Linked DNA regions of Homo sapiens: all the other regions are linked to region 2. The links come from fine-mapping of genetic effects on gene expression. A gene starts in region 2. Each other region holds a variant in brackets. All regions are shown on one strand. Distances are between the middles of the regions. Region 1 overlaps NIPAL3 (NIPA like domain containing 3). Region 2 holds the start of NIPAL3 (NIPA like domain containing 3). Region 3 overlaps NIPAL3 (NIPA like domain containing 3). Region 4 overlaps NIPAL3 (NIPA like domain containing 3).

Region 1 (5,262 bases), 56 kb before region 2:
CTGAATTTTTTTTTTTTTTTTTTTTTTTTTGAGATGGAGTCTCACTCTGTGGCCAGGCTGGAGTGCAATGGCACAGTCTTGGCTCACTGCAACCTCTGCCTCCTGGGTTCAAGCGATTCTCCTGCCTCAGCCTCCCAAGCAGCTGGGACTACAGGCGTGCACCACCACGCCCAGCTAATCTTTGTATATTTATTAGAGACGGGGTTTCACCATGTTGGCCAGGATGGTCTTGATCTCTTGATCTTGTGATCTGTCTGCCTCAGCCTCCCAAAGTGCTGGGATTACAGGCGTGAGCCACCGCACCTGGCCGGTAGACTGAATTTTATTCCCTCATCTGGTTTGCAGGTGGGACCATTGCAAACGTGGTCCCCAGAGACTCAGCTAATGAGCTTCTGTCCTTCAAGTCTGCACCTTCCTTTGAAACTGGGCCAAAGGTGATGTCCTAACCCATGGCAGACCTTACTCCCATTAAAATCCTGTTTGCCCACACCAGGAGAGGCAGCACAGTGAGGGAAGAGCTCAGGTTTTGGAGTCAGGCAGTCCTGGGCTCAAATACTGGCTCTGCTGTTCACCAGCTATGAGACCTGAGTCTCAATTTCTTTTCTTTTTGAGATAGGGTCTTGCTCTGTTGCCCAGGCTGGAATGCAGAGGTGCAATCATGGCTCACTGCAGCCTCAGTCTCCTGGGCTCAAGCAATCTTTTCACCTCAGCCTCCTGAGTAGCTGGGACTACTGGCACACACCACCATGCCTGCTAATTTTTATTTTAATTTTTAATTTTTTTTTTAGTAGAGATGGGGTCTTGCTATGTTGTGCAGGCTGGTCTCAAATTGCTGAGCTCAAGTGATCCTCCTACCTTGGCCTCCCAAAGTGGTGGCATTACAGGCATAAGCCACCATGCCCAGTCAGTCTCAGTTTCTTCATCTGTAAAAGGATATGATTAAAATTTACCTCATGGAACTTTTATAAAGGAGAAATGAGATATAAATATGAGGTCTTAATATATCATGTGGCATACAGTAAGTGCTTAATATATGAGTATGTATATATGACTCTGTATTTTATTTTTGTGACTGTACAAATAAATATATAGGTACCATACTACACCTGCCTTTGCAAATTGGAAACTTGGAATGAAGAGACATATGTGCTTAGAAATACTTAAGATCAAAAGTGTTCATTATATAATTTAAAAAAGAATAAAGAGAAAAAAACCCCATTGTTTCAATATAATACAATGCCTTGATGGGATGCTCAATATAGTTCTAAGACTTTACATCTATTAACCCATCCAATCCTAAAACAATCCTTAATAATGCTGTTATTCCTGTTTCACAGATGAAGCACAGACAGGTTAAGTAACCTGCCCAATGCTACACAGCTAACAGGTGAGAGAGGAATCAAATCCAAGCAGTGTAGACAGAGAGTCTGTGCTTTTTTTTTTTTTTTTTTTGAGATGGAGTTTCACTCTTGTTCCCTCTTGTTGCCCAGGCTGGAGTGCAATGGTGCAATCTTGGCTCACCGCAACCTCCACCTCCCAGGTTCAAGGGACTCTCCTTGCCTCAGCCTCCCGAGTAGCTGGGATTACAGGCACGTGCCACCATGCCTGGCCAATTTTATATTTTTAGCAGAGACGGGGTTTCTCCATGTTGGTCAGGATGGTCTCAAACTCCTGACCTCAGGTGGTCTGCCTGCCTCAGCCTCCCAAAGTGTTGGGATTACAGGCATGAGCCACCGTGCCTGGCCAAGAGTCTGTGCTTTTAACCACGGTGAAGGTTGCAGGGGAAGCTCAAGTGAGCCTCAGCTGCAATAATGGGCATCTCTAGATCTGTACTGTTAATATACGAACTATATGGAAATGTAATTAGATGAAATTAAACATTCAGTTCCTTGGTTGCACTAGCCACATTTAAAGTGTTCAACAGCCACCTGTGGAGAGTGGCTACCATGTTGGGCAGCATAGACATAGAACACTTCCATCATCGCAGAAAGTTCTACTAGACAGTACTGTTCTAGATAATTCTAGGAAGTATTAGCCAAACATAAGACACGAACTCAGCTGTCACTGCATGGATTTTTAATTAAATACCACTTCATAATGTTATTTGCACCTAGTACTTTTTTTTTTTTAAATAAGACATGCCATAAGTCGTGAAGTTAACAAAATATAAGCATCCGCACAGAATATATTCTAAGGTGACTTCATTTACACCGCTTCTCAGAGAAACACACAAGTAACCTTTTGTCTGCCTATCAGCCAGTGTTGAAACAGCTTTGGAATTCACATGGAAGGCTGCCGGGCTGGTTCCCCAACACTAGCCTGATGGAGTCCTGTATCCGCACCGTGCCGTCAAACTGGCTGGTTTCCACTAGAAAAGCAATGGAGAGTCAGCTCTCCCTTCTTTACCCAGCGTTCAACTCCACACTGCAAAAACTGCATAACCTGAACCCTGCTGTGATGGCAACTGAAGTTTAAACCCAAGTTTGGTGACCTTGCTTTAGGTACCTGGGCTGCTCAAAAGGAGACCGAGGTGTGATATTTAACATTGCTTGCAACATTCAAGAGGGCTTGGGGACGTCAGAGCCATGAGTAACAATAACGAACCAGGGCTATGAGTGGAATCCTGATGTACCCCTTCCCCATCTTAACAGCCAGTGCTGCGTATGGCCATCAGCAGACAGTCCATTTATACCACTGGACAAAGATTGGGAGGAACCAGCCCAAGACAGATGATGGCTCCACACCCACTGTGCTTCCTGACTACTCAAGTGACCTACGTGTGGCTTCCAGTCAGGAAACTACCATTTAACTTTCTGCTCAGCCCTTTCATGGCTCAGGTTGGTGGGATGATGCCACTGCTCCAAACCCGAAGGCAAGGGAGCTTCCCAGGCCTCAGCAGCAGTTCCTGGGTGGCACTGTCCCCATGATCTGAAGCAGACATGAAATTACAATACGCTTTTATTCACTCATCTCAAGAAAGCTGGCTGGCCCAAGCCTAAAAGGCCCATACCAAAAAAAAAAAAAAAAAAGGGAAGGAAGGGGGCAGAGTAAGTTTGGGAGCATATATATGCCCAAATTATTAATGATCACCCGGGTTTGACACATCTAAATAGCCTCCCTGCTCACCTTCTGTTTCTCCCTCCT[G/A]CCTCCACTCCCAGCTTTAGAAAAATCATTTGGGAAAGGAGAAATATATAAATAGCAGTGAAACCTGATTTTAATTTCTGCTTTTTGTTTTTTGTTCTTGCAGGCTCGGAGAAGGTAACTTATTCCCCCTTCTGATTCTTCCTCCACACTGAACAAGCCCTCCTTTTCAATCAGTGCTGGTCCTGCCCTTCTCTTCCTCATGAACCATCAGTGGCTCCCACGTCCTCTTGGATACACTTTAAACTCCTTAGCCAGGTATTCAAGACCCTCCATGATTCGGCCTCCACTGCTTATCTTTTTTTTTTTTTTTTTTTTGAGCCATGGTCTCATTGTCACCCAGGCTGGAGTGCAGTAGCATGATCATGGCTCACTGTAGCCTTGGCTCTCTGGGCTCTAGCGATCCTCCCACCTCAGCCTCCTGAGTAGCTAGGATCACAGGCATGCACCACCACACCCAGCTAATTTATTTATTTTTAATTTTTAGCAGAGATGAGGTCTTGCTATGTTGCCCAGGCTGATATAAAACTCCTGGGCTCAAGTGATCCTCCAGCCTTGGCCTCCCAAAGTGCTGGGATTGCAGGCATGAGCCACTGTGCCCAGCTTCCACTACTTAGCTTTGAGACTCATCTCCCACCACCTTCCCTGGCTTTCCTTTCTTTGCCCAGCTCCTCTTAGCTCTGTGCCTTTGCAAATGCTGGCCCCTCTGCCTCGGGGGTGATCACCCTATTTTATATGCTTTATACAAATCTTAGATTTGCCACCCATCTATGAGTGGGGCCAAAATCATCTCCACTTCTGAATACCCCTTTGGGCTCAGGGTCCGACCTTTAGCAGGGTCTCCATGACGGTCATTTTCTGTGGCCCACGACCGCACTTCACACCCATCAGAGATTCCTGGGTATTTGTGCCTCCCTCTGCTGGCCTGGAGGGCAGGAACTATGTCTTATTTTGTAGCCTGGGTCTTCCAAATGCTTAGCACACAGTAAATGCCTTATAAATATTGTTGAATTGATACCCATCCTAAGGGAAAGGGGCCCACTGCCCATTGCCGCCTTAGGCAGTTAAGACCACACAATACAGAAGTGGTTAAGACGCAATACAGAAGTGGTTATCACAGACAACAGATGTCAGTTTTTGGAGTCAAGATACTAAATCAGTATTAAGCACAATCCATAAAGATAAGTGATCTATCACACTGGTCTATTAACACTGTTATCATGCCTATTAAAGGCTGTCTAGGGAAGTGGTGAGTGTAGCTCTAAGTAGTATTCATTGGATGGAGAAATGCCACAGATCCTATGGGGAGTATTTAACCTTCCAAAGGAACCCTAGGGAGGAAATTTTCTAGCAAGACTGCATGGGGCCCTGGGGGTTTTAGCAGAACATCTTTGTAAATTCTTAGGCTTTCCAGATGTGAAATCTCGGGATTGAAGCATCGCATCAGAATCACTGGTGGTACCAGTTAAGAATGCAGACCCGTGGGCCCCACTCCAGTCCCACTTAACAGTGTCTGCAGTTGGGGTGCAGGAATCTGCATTTTACATATGCTTCTAGGGGATCCTTATGCCCATTAAAGTTTGCAAACCTTTATCCGCCCCTCTCAAAAGTATACCATCAGTCTAGGGGAAGACAGTCACATATGCGGCCAGGAAGAAAGCAACAGCCCTGTTTTGGAGAATGCTTGCTTCTCCCAGACATATATGCATGGGGATGAGGACCCAGAGAGTCTCTATTGACTTCAAGGAAATTAACCAGTAACTCAAGCTTGGCTTGTGGCTCTGTAATGGAGAGACGGAGGACAGGTGAAGAGGCTGTCTCTGAAATGAGCATCCCCATCTTTCCAGGGGGCACTGGTATGCAGGAAAAAAATAACACATAAAATGGCCAGATTTTCTACCTATCCTTTTTTAAGTGGTGCAATCACCTTTTGTAAGAGTAAGGGGAACTTTTCTTCCTTAATGGGCTAAAGCATCATCACCCTCTCCTATCCTCCATATTCTTCCCCTTCTCTTAACTTCCTAATTCCTTTGGTGGAGGAGGTGGACAAACAAGTAGTCCTCACAGGACCAAAACCAAGTTTCGTTTTCAGAGTAGATCCAATTTGAACATATCAAGCAC
Region 2 (5,000 bases):
AAGCTGGAGTGCAGTGGCACAAACATGGCCTCAAGCTGGGCTCAAGCAATCCTCCCTCAGCCTCCCAAGTAGCTGGGACCTCAGACGCGTGCCACAAGGCCTGGCTAATTTTTTTGTAGAGACAGGGTTTCGCCATGTTATCAGGCTGGTCTTGAACTCTTAGGCTCAAGCAGTCCACTTGCCTCAGCCTCCCAAAGTGCTAGGATTACAGGTGTGTGCCACTTCTCAAAATTTGCTACCAAACAGAGAAGAGAAAGTATACTTCTAGTGTCCTAGGAGGCATGGCCAAAACCCTGCTTAAAAGTGTTAGGGTTTTCTTTGAGGACTTTTTATACATTTTTTAGAAATGTATTCTACTGCATAGTCTATGTTTATTTTAATAGAAAAATGTTTTAAATTGCTTTTGATGTGCCATGTGCTACCTGTTTTACCTTTGCCAGGTCATTTAACTTTTCAGCCAGTTTCTCCAGCTGTGAAATATAGATAATAATGTTCCCACTCCACATGGCAGTCATGAGAATTTGATGAAATCATACATGTAAAATGCAGGCATAGCAAATGGTCCATGAATGTGAGCTGCTGTTAAGATTAATTTTATTCTCTCCTGTTTAATTATTTATTTTGTCCATTCCTTTCTCTCTCATGCATTCATCCAACAAATATTTACTGAGGGCTCACTGTGAGCTAAACAATTTCTGCCACTCCCTGAGGCTTCAGAGAGCTGCCTCCTGTGTATCCTGTAGCTTCCAGTTCCTTCTGCTATCCGGCCCTAGGCCCAGGAATTCTGGTTCATGGTGTGGACAGCACATACATATGTGATAAGGGGAACACCATGTCCAGTCCTGGGATACAACAAATGCAGGTTTAGCATAGGGACAGCTACAGAAACCATTTGGCTTGGTTTCACTTTGTCAGAGGGCCTCAGGATGAAATTATTGCTACTACCTGCAGACGAGGTTATATATCCAATATACAGACATGAGATGTAAGCATTCACCGGGTAACTTTATCAGGTAATTCACATCCCATAGCTAGACTTCCCTGCCTGTAAAACCCTATGAATATGTGTTTGCAATCTTGTGGAAAGCATAATTGTTCACTATACTTTCACGTACATGTGAAAAGCATTATTGTGTTACATTTCTGTAAAAATGTTTTAGCATTTGTAATAATCATAAGAGCCTTAAGAGTGGCTCAGGGTTCTTTCTACCTCTGAGAGGCCCCGGGAAGCATTCAACCATGAAGCAGTCATGGAGTTGAGGAGCGCAAACTCCAGTGAGGTGTTTGCGGAATACCCTGTTCAGTTGCTCCCAGCTGAGATCTAGCCCAGAGCCTGACAGTGACTTCTATACATACCAACCAACTGACTAAATGAGATCTAGCCCAGAGCCTGACAGTGACTTGTATACATACCAACCGACTGACTAAATGCAGGCTGGTTAAGCACTGGGTGCACTGTGGCCCCTTCGCAGTCAAGAATGCCTTTCTAAGGCCTAATCAACCACAACTCCAGAGCTTCAACAAGCAGATATACTCAGCCCCACCCACAGGAGGTCAGAGAAAGCCAACAGACCTTAGCGACATGTCAATCAAGGGAGTGGTGGGAACCCAGGCCTCCTAACATCCTTCAGAGTAGTTTGCCCAAGTGCTTTTCTGGTTTTGCTTTTGTTTGTGGTGGTTGGCATTGCTGTGGTTTAATTTTTCTTTTAAAAAGCAGCTTCCCTCTCTGCCTCAGGAACTCGCAGGCCTCTGAAGCATCGCCTGCAAAGATTGAAGGCTCTCCCTCAGCTGGGTGGGAGTCCGGACTGAAAGCCTGGAGGAACCCTTTGCAAGCTGTACTCCCTTATAAGACACATACTTTTCACCTGGTGACTCTCTTTTCCTGATTTCGAAGCATTTCTTCAGGACCTACATATGCCCGAGAGGCAAGCAGTCACCTCTGCGTTGTCAACCACCCCACAATTAGAGCACGTGGTCACTGACCCAAGGAAGGAATGAGAATTCACTAGGTGCTCTGCTTCCATTCCCACCCCGTTTATCTCGATGACGGATTTCACCAATCCCACAGAGCACGTTTTACAAATGAGACAGCCGTGGCTCATAGCGTCTGTATTCGAATTTGCCTCTTTCTGAACAAATCAATAAAACACGCTCTTTCCCACCACCCGACGATCTGGCTTCTGGAGGTGAGCGCCAGTTCCCTGCCAAGCTTCCCGTTCCTCGGCTTTGGCTCACGAGAAGGTTACATTCTTCCGTCCCGTCCCACTGAGCTGGAAACTTACAACTCGAGGAGACAGCACCTCTGTTCCAGAAGCGGGCTTAGACCAAGAACGCCTCCCCTCATCCCACCTGCTAACTCCACCATCTGCTGCCGCCAGGAAGCCCGAGCCGCTCGGCACGAAGAGGAGAAATTCTGGCAAAGTTAACTCCATGTCACTTCCTGGTTTGGTAGAGCCTGGCATCACCTTTAGTAAGGTAGCCCATGCCCCCGCTCCTCTTGGCCTCGATGCAAAACTGGAAAGAACATTCCAAGGCAACGGGACCCAGGTTGGCGAGGCTGGTGACAGTAAGAAGGAAGGGTATGTACACTAGGGGACGTTAGGTGACTTCGCTTTTTCCAGAAAAAAACGAAGGTTAAATTCAATTCCCCTTCCTCCCGGTGTTAATCACTACTCACCGGCGGCGTCTCCTCTAAGGCCCACCTATCAAAACCTTCTGAGAAATGACTCGGACTCTTCGTGCAACCCGGAGGCACAGCCTCCTTCATCCCTTCCCAATTCAGAGCTGCCAAGATGCTGCAGTGTTTTGCTTTCAAAGGTCGCGATTTGATTTGCCAGACTGCCTGCCAGTCAGAAGTTGGCAGGCATTTCGCGCAGGCAAGTGGCTGCGAGGACGGGGAGTAGGCGGGACAGCCCCTGGCAATTGGCTGCGCTGCAAAGCTTGCTTGAAGCATAAGGGAGCGACCTGGGGCTAGAGCTTGGCGCTCACCTGGAGCGGGGACCCCCTAGCGGCCACAGGAAGAATGGTGCGGCGACTCCCCTGCCCCCTCTCCCGCTGTCCCAGAGAGCTTAGGTGGTTGCTCGCCTCCACCTGCCCGGCAGGTGGGCCTGGTTTTAGCAGCCTGCCAGGTGTCCTCCCTTCTTATCCTCATAGCCACCTTCCGGGCTTTGCTCCTGCTGTTCCCCTACCCGACGCTCTCACCAAGTATTCAAATCCAAAACGTCCTTGAAGACCCAGCGCTCCCCAGAGCCCTCGCGAGACTTGGGACCAAACATATCTCTCCTTTCCTGCCCTCCTGGAACACCTGTCGGATACCAAGCCTCCCAGCAATACTGAAGGTCCTGAAACGAGCCCAGCGCTTGGTTAATGTTTCTATAATGTACATAATTATCACGGCCATGATAATTAACATGCGCATGGAGTTTTACAGATGACAAGCTTCTCATCGCTCACACGTTGTCATATACACGCATTTGCTTTCAGATCGTCACAGCCATGAGTGAGACTTGAAGCCCGTTTTACGTATGAAGAAATGTCATTTGGGCCTAGACATCAACAATGAGAAAGAGGCAGTTCTAGTCTCAGATCGTGGGGCAGAGAAAGCTCCTTGGGAACATGGGAGAGGAACGAGTTGGTGCATTGTAGAAACTGCCCGAAGGCCAGCAGGGCTGGTGAGAGATTTTTCTGGGGGCGTGGTTGGGCCTGCGATCTGAGGGACGGGCCAGGGACAGTTTATAAATAACATATTTGGGGGCCGGCGCGGTGGCTCACACCTGTAATCTCAGGACTTTGGGAGGCCAGGAGGATCACTTAAGCCCAGGAGTTTGAGACCAGCCTGGACAATATAGTGGGACCCCATCTCTACAAAAAAATTTAAAAATTAGCCGGGCGTGGTGGCGAGCGCCCGTGGTCCCAGCTACTCAGGAGGCTGAGGCGGGAGGATCGCTTGAACTCGGGAGGCGGAGGTTGCAGCGAGTCGAGATCGCGCCACTGCACTCCAGCTGGGCGACAGAGCAAGACCCTGTCAAAAAAAAAAAAAAAAAAAAAAAAGCTTGGATTTCACCCTAAATTTAAAGGCGAGCCATTGGAGGACTTTAAGCAGGGGAGTGACAAGGTCGCTGAGACCGCCCTGCCCTGAAGCGTGTGAAGAGGGGCTCCTGGAATACTAAGTGGCTGCCCTTGTATAGTCGCCCATGTCAATTTTTTTTTTTTTCTTCTGTTAGAAACAGGGCTTGGGGCCGGGCGTGGTGGCTCACGCCTGTAATCCCAACACTTTGGGAGGCCGAGGCGGGTGGATCACCTGAGGTCAGGAGTTCGAGACCAGCCTGGCCAACGTGGTGAAACCCTGTCTCTACTAAAAATACAAAAAGAATAGCCTGGCGTGGTGGCGAGCGCCGGTAATCCCAGCTACTCAGGAGGCTGAAGCAGGAGCATCGCTTGAACCTGGAGGGCGGAGGTTGCAGTGAGCCAAGATTGCGCCACTGCACTACAGCCTGCTCGACAAAGCGAGACTCTGTCTCAAAAAAAAAAGAAACAGGGCTTGGATGAATGTTAATTCTTTTAGGTATATTCCTTGAAGCAGGATTTTTGAGTGAGCAAAATTCTGAGGCTTTTGGTTTATCACAAGATTTTTGAAGCATGGCCTAGATAAACCTCTTATTAGTTCCCCACCCCGCTACAGGCCCTGATGTAATTAACCTAAGCCCTAAAATTCGGCCGGCTTCTCTGCGGACTTTGAAACGCCTCTAATGATTGGTCAACAACTTTTCACGTTAAAGAAACAGAGGATGCCATTGGCTGGAGTTACCTCGCGGACGGCGGAAGGTGGACTCGCGAATGTTAGGCCTGTGGGTGCCATAGCGACCGGGAGGTTGGGCTGGCCAGATTCAGCTGCCGGGACCGGACCAGGTAGGAAGCAGTTCCGGCGGGGGGACCGGTCCCTGAGGTCGTGGGGAAGAGGACACGGCGCACCATGTCCTCCGCATGGGACGCCCGCGGAG
Region 3 (5,000 bases), 35 kb before region 2:
GGACCACAGAAGTAGGCGAGACCGGGAGACCCTGGTGGGCTGGGCCATCACCAGAGTCACAGGGTTGAAAGGGAATGACTGAGCTATGATTCAGCATTTCCCAAACTACTGTTAGACGTTCAGGGGAAAAGGGAAACACAGAGTGAATCTCTCTAATCCCTGGCTAGTACTGAGAAGGAATTCCCTGTTGTCCTGAGGCTGAAGCTTTGAGGGTGACGTGCTGCTCTCATATCCACTCTTTCTTGGAGGGCCAAGATGCATCAGGCTGAGATGGTTTCTTCCCACTCCACTGCTCCATGGGCATCCCCATTAAAACAATGGGTTGGTCCAAGAGGGAGACACTTGTTCACCAACCTATTTGGTCAAGAATGTGAGGCCAGGCACGGTGGCTCACACCTGTAACCCTAGCACTTTGGGAGGCCAAGGCGGGTGGATCACCTGAAGTCAGGAGTTCGAGACCAGCCTGGCCAACATGGTGAAACCCGGTCTCTACTAAAAATACAAAAAAAAAAAAAAAAAAAATTAGCTGGGCGTGGTGGCATCTGCCTATAATCCCAGCTACTCAGGAGGCTGAGGCAGGAGAATTGCTGAGATCACGCCACTGCACTCCATCCTGGGAGACAGAGCGAGGCTCCATCTCAAAAAAATAAATAAATACATAAATAAAGAATATGAGTATATACTCCCTGTGCTCCCAGCCAAGCTTCCAGTGTGAAGCTTCACAGAGTAGAATGAGGAAGGCCTTTGGAGTCAGGGAGACCTGGGCTGGAACTTAGGTCTGCCTCTAAACTAGTCGTGTGGCCTTGGGTAAGTCACTTAACTTCTCTAAACCTTAGTTAACCCTCTGTGGAGTAGGGTTAAGAATTCTTTTTATGGGCCCATAATCATAGCTTACACTAAATGACGTCTCCTTGTACGCCAGGCAGTGTTCTAAGCATTTTATCTACGTTAAACTCACTAAATCAGCACAATAACTCTACGAAGCAGGTACTACCACGATGGCGTGGCACAGAGGAATTTAAACCTGGACAGTCTGGCTCCCAGGCCCATGCACTTTCCTGCTAGGCCACACTGTCTGGTGCTCTATCAGTAGAAACTTACCACTAGACGATGGCAAGTCCGAGTTTGAGAAGCTCCCCCTCCTTGCATCAACAACTGTTCCTTTCTACCCCTTAAAAGCCCAGATATTTGCTAACACTTTCCCAAGAAGTTAAGCCAGCCCTAGCGCCCAGTGCAACTAAAGCAGAAAACTTTGACAACAGCTTAGTCTCATTTGCCTATCCCAAACCCCTTATCAAAGCTGATTTAGTATAAAAAAAACCCAGAAACATTAATGGGCATTTTGAAACATTTAAAACATTCCTTCTAATTAGAGACCATAAAACACAGCTGCTTTCATTTCCCCGTTTCTTCTTTGTCTTTGTTCCAGTGAATCCATATTTTAACGAGTTGTCATTATAGTCAATGCACGATTTTGTACTGGGCTGTTTTTAGTTACCATAAACAATCTTCATGTTTTGTGAAGTTGTCATAATTATCTTTAATTGCTGCAGAATACTTCATCAAGTGGATGTGCTGTCAATCATCAACATTCCCAACCACTGTGCCTGCATTTGAGGGGTCCCAATTCTTCAGCCATTCTCCATGATTTTTTTTTTCTTTTTCTTTTTTTGAGACAGGGTCTCACTGTGTCACTCAGGCTGGAGTGCAGTACTGTGATCATGGCTTACTGCAGCTTTGACCTCCAGGGCTCAAAGCTATCCTCCCACCTTAGCCTCCTTAGTAGCTGGTAATACAGGCATGCATCACCACACCTGGCTAATTTTTACTTTTTTTTTTCCAAATAGAGACGGGGTTTTGCCACATTGCCCACACTGGTCTCAAGTTCCTGGGCTCAAGCAATCCTCCTACCTCGGCCTCCCAAAGTGCTGAGATTATAGGTGTGAGCCACCACATGTGGCCCGTTCTCCATGATTCTAAAATGAACACTGGAATAGCACTGGACATTATATCATGAGATGGCTGTGCATATGTGGTGCCTCCCAACAGTCCGTGAGTACTGTGGGCATGTCTCATTTATTTTTTATAACCATAGTGTCTAGCACACAGCAGACGCTCAATAAATATTGACTGAATTTGGTTTGGCCAAATCTCTCCAGCTGGCAGCACTGCCTCCCAGTCATGATGAAGTAAGACAACAGAATCATTCACTGAGCATCT[A/G]CCACCTTCTGGGTGACTTAAATGCTACTTCCTGGATCTCCCAATAGCAATTTTAAGTCCAGAGATTCTTGCCACTTTACAGAGAGGGAAACAGAGAAGGAAAGCGACTTGGCTAAGGCCACACAGCACTTAGGAAGTCTTGGGCTTCAATCCTCTGAGTGAAAGGCCTGTTCTGGGGTAACGCTTTGCCCAAGGAGGCGGTCTTTTGCTCTGTCACCAACTACATGCTGGGGCTGGCTGCCTGTTGGGAAATGACACAGCCCCCATTTCAGGGGAAGTGATCCTCTGCCTTGTGGATAATCTGAGGAAAAAGGATGTTCCAGGGCCTCTAGACTCAATCAGAGACCAGGCTGTTTATGTCAGAGGAAAACAGTGAACACCTTTGTCGGCAGGCCACGGGGAAGGAAGATGGCACCTGAGGCCAGGTGGGCCCGGCCTTCAAATCCAACCCTGCTTTTATGAACTCTGAGCAGGTCAGCTAACCTCTCAGAGCCCTGGTTTTCTCACCCATAAAATGGGAAGAACATTTACTTTACAGGGTTAAGAGAATCTGAGATGATACATAAAAATGTGTTTAGCACAGCGCAGGGCATGGAACAAGAACGTACCAGTAGCTTTATCACATACTTTAGATGTTTTCCTTAATCAGTTGATTTATAGACTTAAAATGGGATAGAACTGGGGCAGAGGACTGAGCTCTGGCGGAGGGGTTAGGAGACAAAATTTCCCGTGTCTCCTGGGCTTCTATCAGCAGTGTGATACTGGGAAAAAAAATAAAATAACATTCTTAAATGGTTTACAGTTTTAACTTTTTCTTCCCCTTACCATAAAAGTTTGAAATGGTTACTGTAGAAATTTTGGACAATTCATAAAGATGAAGAGGAAATAAGAACTGAGTCATAACACTATCTCCCAGAGCCAACTACTGATGGAATTTGCTTTCCCATCCAGGCCTTCCTAGGTATATTACATGACCACATACCTATACACACCTCTAAAAAATAAAACTGACATCATAATGGTTTTGATATTACTGTGTGGGGCACAGTGGCAGTTCATTCGTTCTCATTGTGTACAGTGATCCACTGTGTGAATACAACACAATTTATCCATTCTACTGCTGGGGGGCACTTGAGGAGTCTCCAGCCTGGAGTTATAAAAAATAATGTTGCTGTGAACATTCTCATACATGTCATTTGAGAAACACATGTATGCATTTCTGTTGAGTATAAAATGAGGGGTGGAATTCCTCCATAGGATATGTGGATATTCAATTTGGTAATTAGTGTCAAATGTTTTTCCCAAGTGGCTGTACCAATTTACACTCCCACCAGTAGAGTTTTGATATTACATAAATGAAACAAGCATTTCGCCATGAGCTGTGTACTCTCCAGAAGCACGGTCTTTCATGCTGGTAAAATGTGCCGCAACTCACGGAATCCCCTATTGCTGGGTATTCACGTTTCTGGTTTCTAGGACTTGATCTCCCTCCTGCCATCTCAGGGGGAACGACTGGAGGCTTCTCTTACCATGTACAAAAGGAAAGGCCAGCTCACGAGGTGCCTGGTGACATTCTCGCCTGTCATCTTCTCGTGACTGTTGGGTGCGAATGTCACCAGCAGGTAGGTACCCACGACAGCCAAACCGCAGCCAACAAAGGACAAGACGTAGCGCCCTGCGGGGAAGAGAGGCTGTCACGGACTCATTGCAACAACAGGCCCAAGATACAGTACACGTTCTCAGCCATGAAAAAACAGGCTTCTCCTGCAACATACCATGACCTGGTATTGTTTGTATTTTTGGTTTTTCTTTACTTTAAAAAATAAATGATTTTCCTTAATTTTGTTAAAAAAACAATTAATGTAAAAAAATAAAAAACTTTAATGAAGTATAACATGCATACAAAAAGTGCTTGAGGAATTCTCCCAAAGTGAACACACTCATGAAACCAGCTCCCAGATGGAGAAAGAGAACATTAGCCAGATACTGAAATTTCTCATTTGTGAAATTGATTACTAGACCCCACCCTCAGGGTTACACTATCTTGACCTGTAACAGCACTGATGGCTTTGCCTAGCTTTGTGCTTTATACAAATGGACCCATACGGTGTGATCTCTTTTGACTCAGCATGATGTTTCTGAGATTCGTCTGCGTTGTGGGGCACAGTGGCAGTTCATTCGTTCTCACTGTGTACAGTGGTCCACTGTGTGAATACAACACAATTTATCCATTCTACTGCTGGGGGGCTTTTGAGGAGTCTCCAGCCTGGAGTTATAAAAAATAATGTTGCTGTGAACATTCTCGTACATGTCATTTGAGAAACACATGTATGCATTTCTGTTGAGTATAAAATGAGAGGTGGAATTCCTCCATAGGATATGTGGATGTTCAGTTTGGTAGTTAGTGTCAAATGTTTTTCCCCAGTGGCTGTACCAATTTACACTCCCACCAGTAGAGTAAGACAGTTCTAGTTACATTCTTGTCAACACTTACATTTTGTCTTTTTCATTTTAGCCATGATGGTATTGCACTGTGATTTTAATGTGCATTTTACAGGTAACATTTTAAAGCTAAAATCACTTTATGGGCAAACTAAAAAAACAAATAAAATAAAACATAAAGGCAAACCTTCAGAGCTCAACACGTACCTTTTAAAAATTACCTCATCCTTTCTCAACTGGCTATTTAACCTAACGCCAAGGGAACTATATAATAACTATATAATTACTATCAATATTCTACGCCACAGACCTGTCAGAGAACTGTTAGTGGTCCAGGT
Region 4 (5,000 bases), 25 kb before region 2:
CTCTTTAAAAAAAAAAAAGAATTTGGTTATTTGAACCTTATTAAAATTCGAAGACTAATATTTAAAGCACCAGTCACTTAGACACTTATTTCTCATTGTGAAAAAGGTTTGGGAGCCCTTTGGAGATACCTGCAGTGGGCAGAGCAGAGTGATAAGGCTACAGGTATGATCACATACAGGGGCTGGGGAGTAACAGAACACAAATATAGAAAATGGTCTGGAAGTAAGACAACAGGGAAAGGCTGAGACTCTGGCAAACTACTTGCCTCAGCTAAAGACATTCAAATTACATTAAAAAAGTACTGTGTGGGAAAAAACACACACCATGTCTGAGGACCTCATTCACTTTGCAAGCTGCCAGTTCAGCAACCCTGGTTAGGAAAAACCGGGACTTATAACAGGATCAGGGAAAGTAAATAGGTTTCTGCTCCCTTGCCAACTCCTGGTGATTGGTAGTGACTGTTGGAAGCACTGAGAATTCTGAGGCCCCATCTATGCTCTCTAGGAAGGAATGCCATGATTGATTAACGATGTCTGCCTTGAGCACAGCAAGGGAGGGGCACATAGTTACCATGCATCTGCCATCCCTTGCATAGAAGAGAACCTCTTAACTCAAGGAGGAATAAGACCCAAAATATGACTTTCTCCTTTAAGAGCAGAGCAGAGCATCTGGGCAGAGTAGTGCTTGCCAGCAAAATGGAAAGAAATATTTCAAAGCAAGTTCATTGTCCTGGCTGCTATGCACACAAAAAAAGCTATTGTTCACTAATCTACTAACATCTTTTCTTTAAGAAGAATTTTTTTTTTCTAATTCTGTTTTGCTTGTGTTCTCATGAACATTAAAGCTCCCTTGTCTTTTAGTTGGTTCAAATGTTCTGAAACACTGGTTCAGTGATTACAGAAATCACAGAAAGCTGGCAGATGAGAAAGTTAATGGCCAGTGTGGTGGCTTACAATTGTAGTCCCAGCACTTTGGGAGGAAAGGCAGGCAGATAGTTTGAGCTCAAGAATTTGAGACCAGCCTGGCCTGGCCCCAAACCCTACAAAAGCTTAATTTGTTTTTTCAATAGATGAGGTCTTGCTCTGTCACCCAGGCTGGAGTGCAATTGTGTAATCAAAGCTCACTGCAGCACTCAAACACTGGACTTAAGGGATCCTCCTGCTTCTGTTTCCCAAGTAGCTAGGACCACAGATGCATACCACCATGCCCAGCTAATTGTTTTTCTTTTTTGTTTGTTTGTTTCATTTTGTAGAGATGGGGTCTCTCCATGTTGCCCAGGCTGGTCTCAAACTCCTGGCCTCAAGCGATCCTCCCACTTCAGCCTCCCAAGTAGCTGGGATTACAGGTACAAGCCACTGCACTCAGTGACAAGCTTAATGTATCTTGATGGTGAAAAGATGCATGGGTTAAGGTTTATCTTCCTTCTTCTTTTAGAAATAAAAAGCAATTCTAATAAGCCTTCTGAATCTTAAACAGAACCTGGAGCCAGACAGCCCAGTTCATATCCCAGCCCTGTTACTCACTAGCTGTGTCATTTGGGGAAAGTAATTTCATTACCCCGTGCCTCAGTTTCCTCATCTGTTAAATGGGGATAACAACAACATCTCCCTCAACAGGTGGCTGGAGGATTAGCAGAATTAATATCTGTAAGCACTTACAGGGCCTGGTGTGTCTGAAGCCCTTTGTATTAGGCTATTATTATCCAAGCTAAAGCTGGTTTGTTCAATGGGCACCTTTGATCCTGGCGCTGGCACTCTGGTCACGCAGCTGGGAGCACCCCAGGGGAGGGTGGGGCAGCCCTGGTCTTACCTATCACAGAAACTGCGCTGAGGGGCACGATGAGTGACAGCGGCGCGAAGGCGTAGGAGGCGAACACACCCAGCTCGCCCAGAAGCATCAGGAACAGGCCCAGCCACCATGTCTTGGTCTTGAAATAGGCCCGGGGATCCTTGGAGCCTGCCAGGCGGATGTGGCAGTACTTCTAGAAACCCGAGAAATAATGCAATTTGCTCAGATGTTTGGGGAAAAAAATGCTATGATGTAGGTACCCTAAATCCACCCCCAACTTGCAAATAAATTGGGAAGACTTGTCAGGTTCTTGTGGAGTCCTGACTCAGAGAAGAGTAAGACAGTGGGGATCTAAATACTAGATCTAAATTCTAGGACAGTAGCTCTCCAACAGGCTGGGAATCCTTATAATCCCCTGAGAAGCTCTGTCAAAATACCCACCTGGGCCTCATCCTGAGTCAGTCTCGGAGAGGTGTGGATGAGCCTGAAAACAGGCATTTCTAATGCACGTCACAGGCAATGCAGTCTCAGGGTGGGAGCCATAGTCTAAAGATCCCACTTGGCCTGGCCCTTGGGTCGACCTCCTCCCTCTCTCTGCAGTTTCCAGGATTCCCCACGTTTGGATGACTGTGTGTTCGGCACACTCCTTCCTGTCTACATGCCAGCAGCTCTCGCTGGGCAGTTGTGTGGGTATCAGTGGGCCTTGCTCTCCCTGGGGTGGATACGTGGCTCAAGCATGGTCAATATTCTTTTTTGGGGGGAAATGTGAACCTGGGACATCGAAACTGAAGCAGTAACTAAAGCAGGCTAGAAAGTCATGTTGACTTAGAGGGCCAAGTCTGCCATTTGGGGAGGATCATGATGTGGGCTGCCCAGAAGCAGATAAACAACCAGAGATGCTGCCCTGGAGAAAGAAGAGAATGAACCAGACAAGTAGCTAAGAGACCACGTGGTCTCAGCGACACACAGAAACATACACATCCCAGAGCTGA[G/C]ATGCATAGAGTACAGGTGAACAAGGCACAAGTGTGTGCCCACAGGGATCACAGTCTCCTGCCTGCTCCAGGGAGGGAGAGCAGTTCACTGCAGGCAGAAGCTGGGCAGTGCTGGTGGAGTGAAGCCGGCCAGTGTGCTGTGGGATTCATCCTGTTAGCAGGTACCAAGTCTTATCTGGGTTTCCCAGAAGCAGTCCCTGAGACAAGAATGTGGGAGCAGGTAGTCTGTATGAGATAATTCCAGGGAGCACGAGTAAGGGAAGGGGAAAGTGAGGCAGGGAACAGAGATGAAAGGTGCATTCATGAGCGGATTAGTCCCGTGGGCAACTGGGACTCAGTCCCACAGGGGACCCTCTGAAAAACCCTGTGAATCTCACCTTAGAATCATCCTAGCAGAGGATAAGAGCCTGGGGCATTTATTCCCTGCCTCCCACCCCTGCTGGCAGAAGGCAGCCTCCAGGGGCATTAACGTCCTGCTCCCCCAGTGCACACCCCAACTGTGCCTGCATGCCAGTAACACCAGCTCCTTGGTGCCCCCATGAGAAGCTCATTAGCTATCAACTTGCTACACACCACAGCTGCTTGTGAACTCAGACAGGCCGAGGGGATTTGGAGGTCAGTGGGGGGATCCACAGCAGCTGTAGAGGGCATCCCTGAGGCTTTTAAGTAATGAACAGTGCTGTAATTAGAGTTGAATTTGACAAAACTATGGTAATTCCAGCAGCTTTGCAGCAAGGCAAAGAGGGATGAGACCAGAGCCAGAGAAGCTAGCAGGAGGTCACTGCAAAGCCCAAGGAGAGACAGTGAGGACCTGGCTAGGAGGGCGAGGGCGGGATGGAGTGGGGCCACTGAATCAAGAGAAATCCTGGAACGGCCCACAAGGTATTGTCCCAGGTGCAGCCCAGGGATGCAGTAGGCAAGGCCCTGCAGAGAGGAGGCAGCTGGACCTGGATAAGACACCCTGACTTGTCTGCTGTGTCTCTGTCCCCAGACAGTGCTGGTAACTGAAACTTACCTGGAGGTTAAGTGCAATGCTGACCACGAGGTGCCCGAAGATCGCCAAGAGGGCGCCAATCAGGTTTTCCTGTAAGGAAAGTTCACAGGAGTGGACATGATTTGGGCACAAGCCAGGGGGCCCCAGGACACTTCTGACACTCAACCATTTGCTGCCCCAAAACAAAACCAGAAAAACAATATCAGTGACAAAGCCACACTCCAGACCCACAACTGGAATGTTACTACTGAAGGTTAATCTGGCTGCTTTGCTGGTTTACAAAATGCTGCCCTGAATTGGATACTTTGGTGGCCCGATCACACTGACCTGACAAGGTCTAAACCTGCTGTGCTATTCCCTTTAAAGTATTAACTTGCCACCATCTTGTGCAGAAAAGCAACATTCCAAAATCAGAATTTACAAGAGAAATATAGGCCAGAGAATACTTTTTGCTATCTTGTCAATAGTGTCTTCAATTTCCCAGAGGGTTTCAATGAAACTCTTTTAACTGGCTCACTTGCTTAGGGCATTGTCAATTACTCAATTTATAAAAAGTTAATTTACATCACCTATGAGTTAGGTTCAGACTACCTGGCACGGAATTTTGTACTTTCTAAAATGATTACCAAACATATATTCATTGTAGACTAAATAGGAAATATATATAGATAAAAATAATAATATCTTAGACAAGGTAGCATGAGAAAAAAATGAAAAAAATAACAATAACAACACCACCATAATAGAAAAGTCACTTTTAATTCTATAACCCAGAGATAATGACTATAAACATTTTGGTTCTTATTCCTGCAAACATTTTTCTGTCCATAAATTTACATATCAATGGAAATGTTAATTTACTTTATAAAAATAAGATTACCATCTGTTTTATAATCTGTTTTTTTACTTAACATATTGTGAGCACATTTCCCTGTCAGGCATACCTAATTTGTCATTTTTATTAAATGTCAAATAACTCATTATTTTTGGATGTGCCATATTTTATATCATTGCTTTGCTATTACTGGATATTTAGGCTGTTTCCTTTATTATTAATTTTTCATTTAACTTTATTTTAGAGTCGGGGTAAATGGGCAGGTGTGTTACATGGGTAAATTGTGTAATGCTGAGGTTTGGGTTTCTAGTGAACCCATCACCCAAATAAGTGAACACAGTACCCAATCGGTAATTTTTCAACTCTCACCCCCACCCCTCCCCGTTTTGG

Evidence for each region.
Region 1: its variant is fine-mapped to the expression of NIPAL3 in blood mononuclear cells (TOPMed, PIP above 0.99).
Region 3: its variant is fine-mapped to the expression of NIPAL3 in whole blood (TOPMed, PIP above 0.99).
Region 4: its variant is fine-mapped to the expression of NIPAL3 in whole blood (TOPMed, PIP above 0.99).

What each region holds. Positions count from the first base shown.
Region 1 is chr1:24,469,776-24,475,037 of GRCh38, reverse strand. NIPAL3 (NIPA like domain containing 3) reads right to left here. Exons shown (of 12, transcript NM_020448.5): 12 at 2,062-5,262. Among named protein-coding and RNA genes, the nearest start is that of RCAN3AS, 30 kb to the left of the region's middle. The variant G/A (reference allele first, on the strand shown) is at 3,145.
Region 2 is chr1:24,413,582-24,418,581 of GRCh38, reverse strand. It overlaps NIPAL3 (NIPA like domain containing 3), which reads right to left and starts at 2,780. Exons shown (of 12, transcript NM_020448.5): 1 at 2,678-2,780. STPG1 (sperm tail PG-rich repeat containing 1) reads left to right here and starts at 4,800. Exons shown (of 9, transcript NM_001199013.2): 1 at 4,800-4,908.
Region 3 is chr1:24,448,376-24,453,375 of GRCh38, reverse strand. NIPAL3 (NIPA like domain containing 3) reads right to left here. Exons shown (of 12, transcript NM_020448.5): 6 at 3,750-3,895. Among named protein-coding and RNA genes, the nearest start is that of NIPAL3, 35 kb to the right of the region's middle. The variant A/G (reference allele first, on the strand shown) is at 2,221.
Region 4 is chr1:24,439,037-24,444,036 of GRCh38, reverse strand. It overlaps NIPAL3 (NIPA like domain containing 3), which reads right to left. Exons shown (of 12, transcript NM_020448.5): 3 at 3,797-3,865; 4 at 1,811-1,982. Among named protein-coding and RNA genes, the nearest start is that of NIPAL3, 26 kb to the right of the region's middle. The variant G/C (reference allele first, on the strand shown) is at 2,782.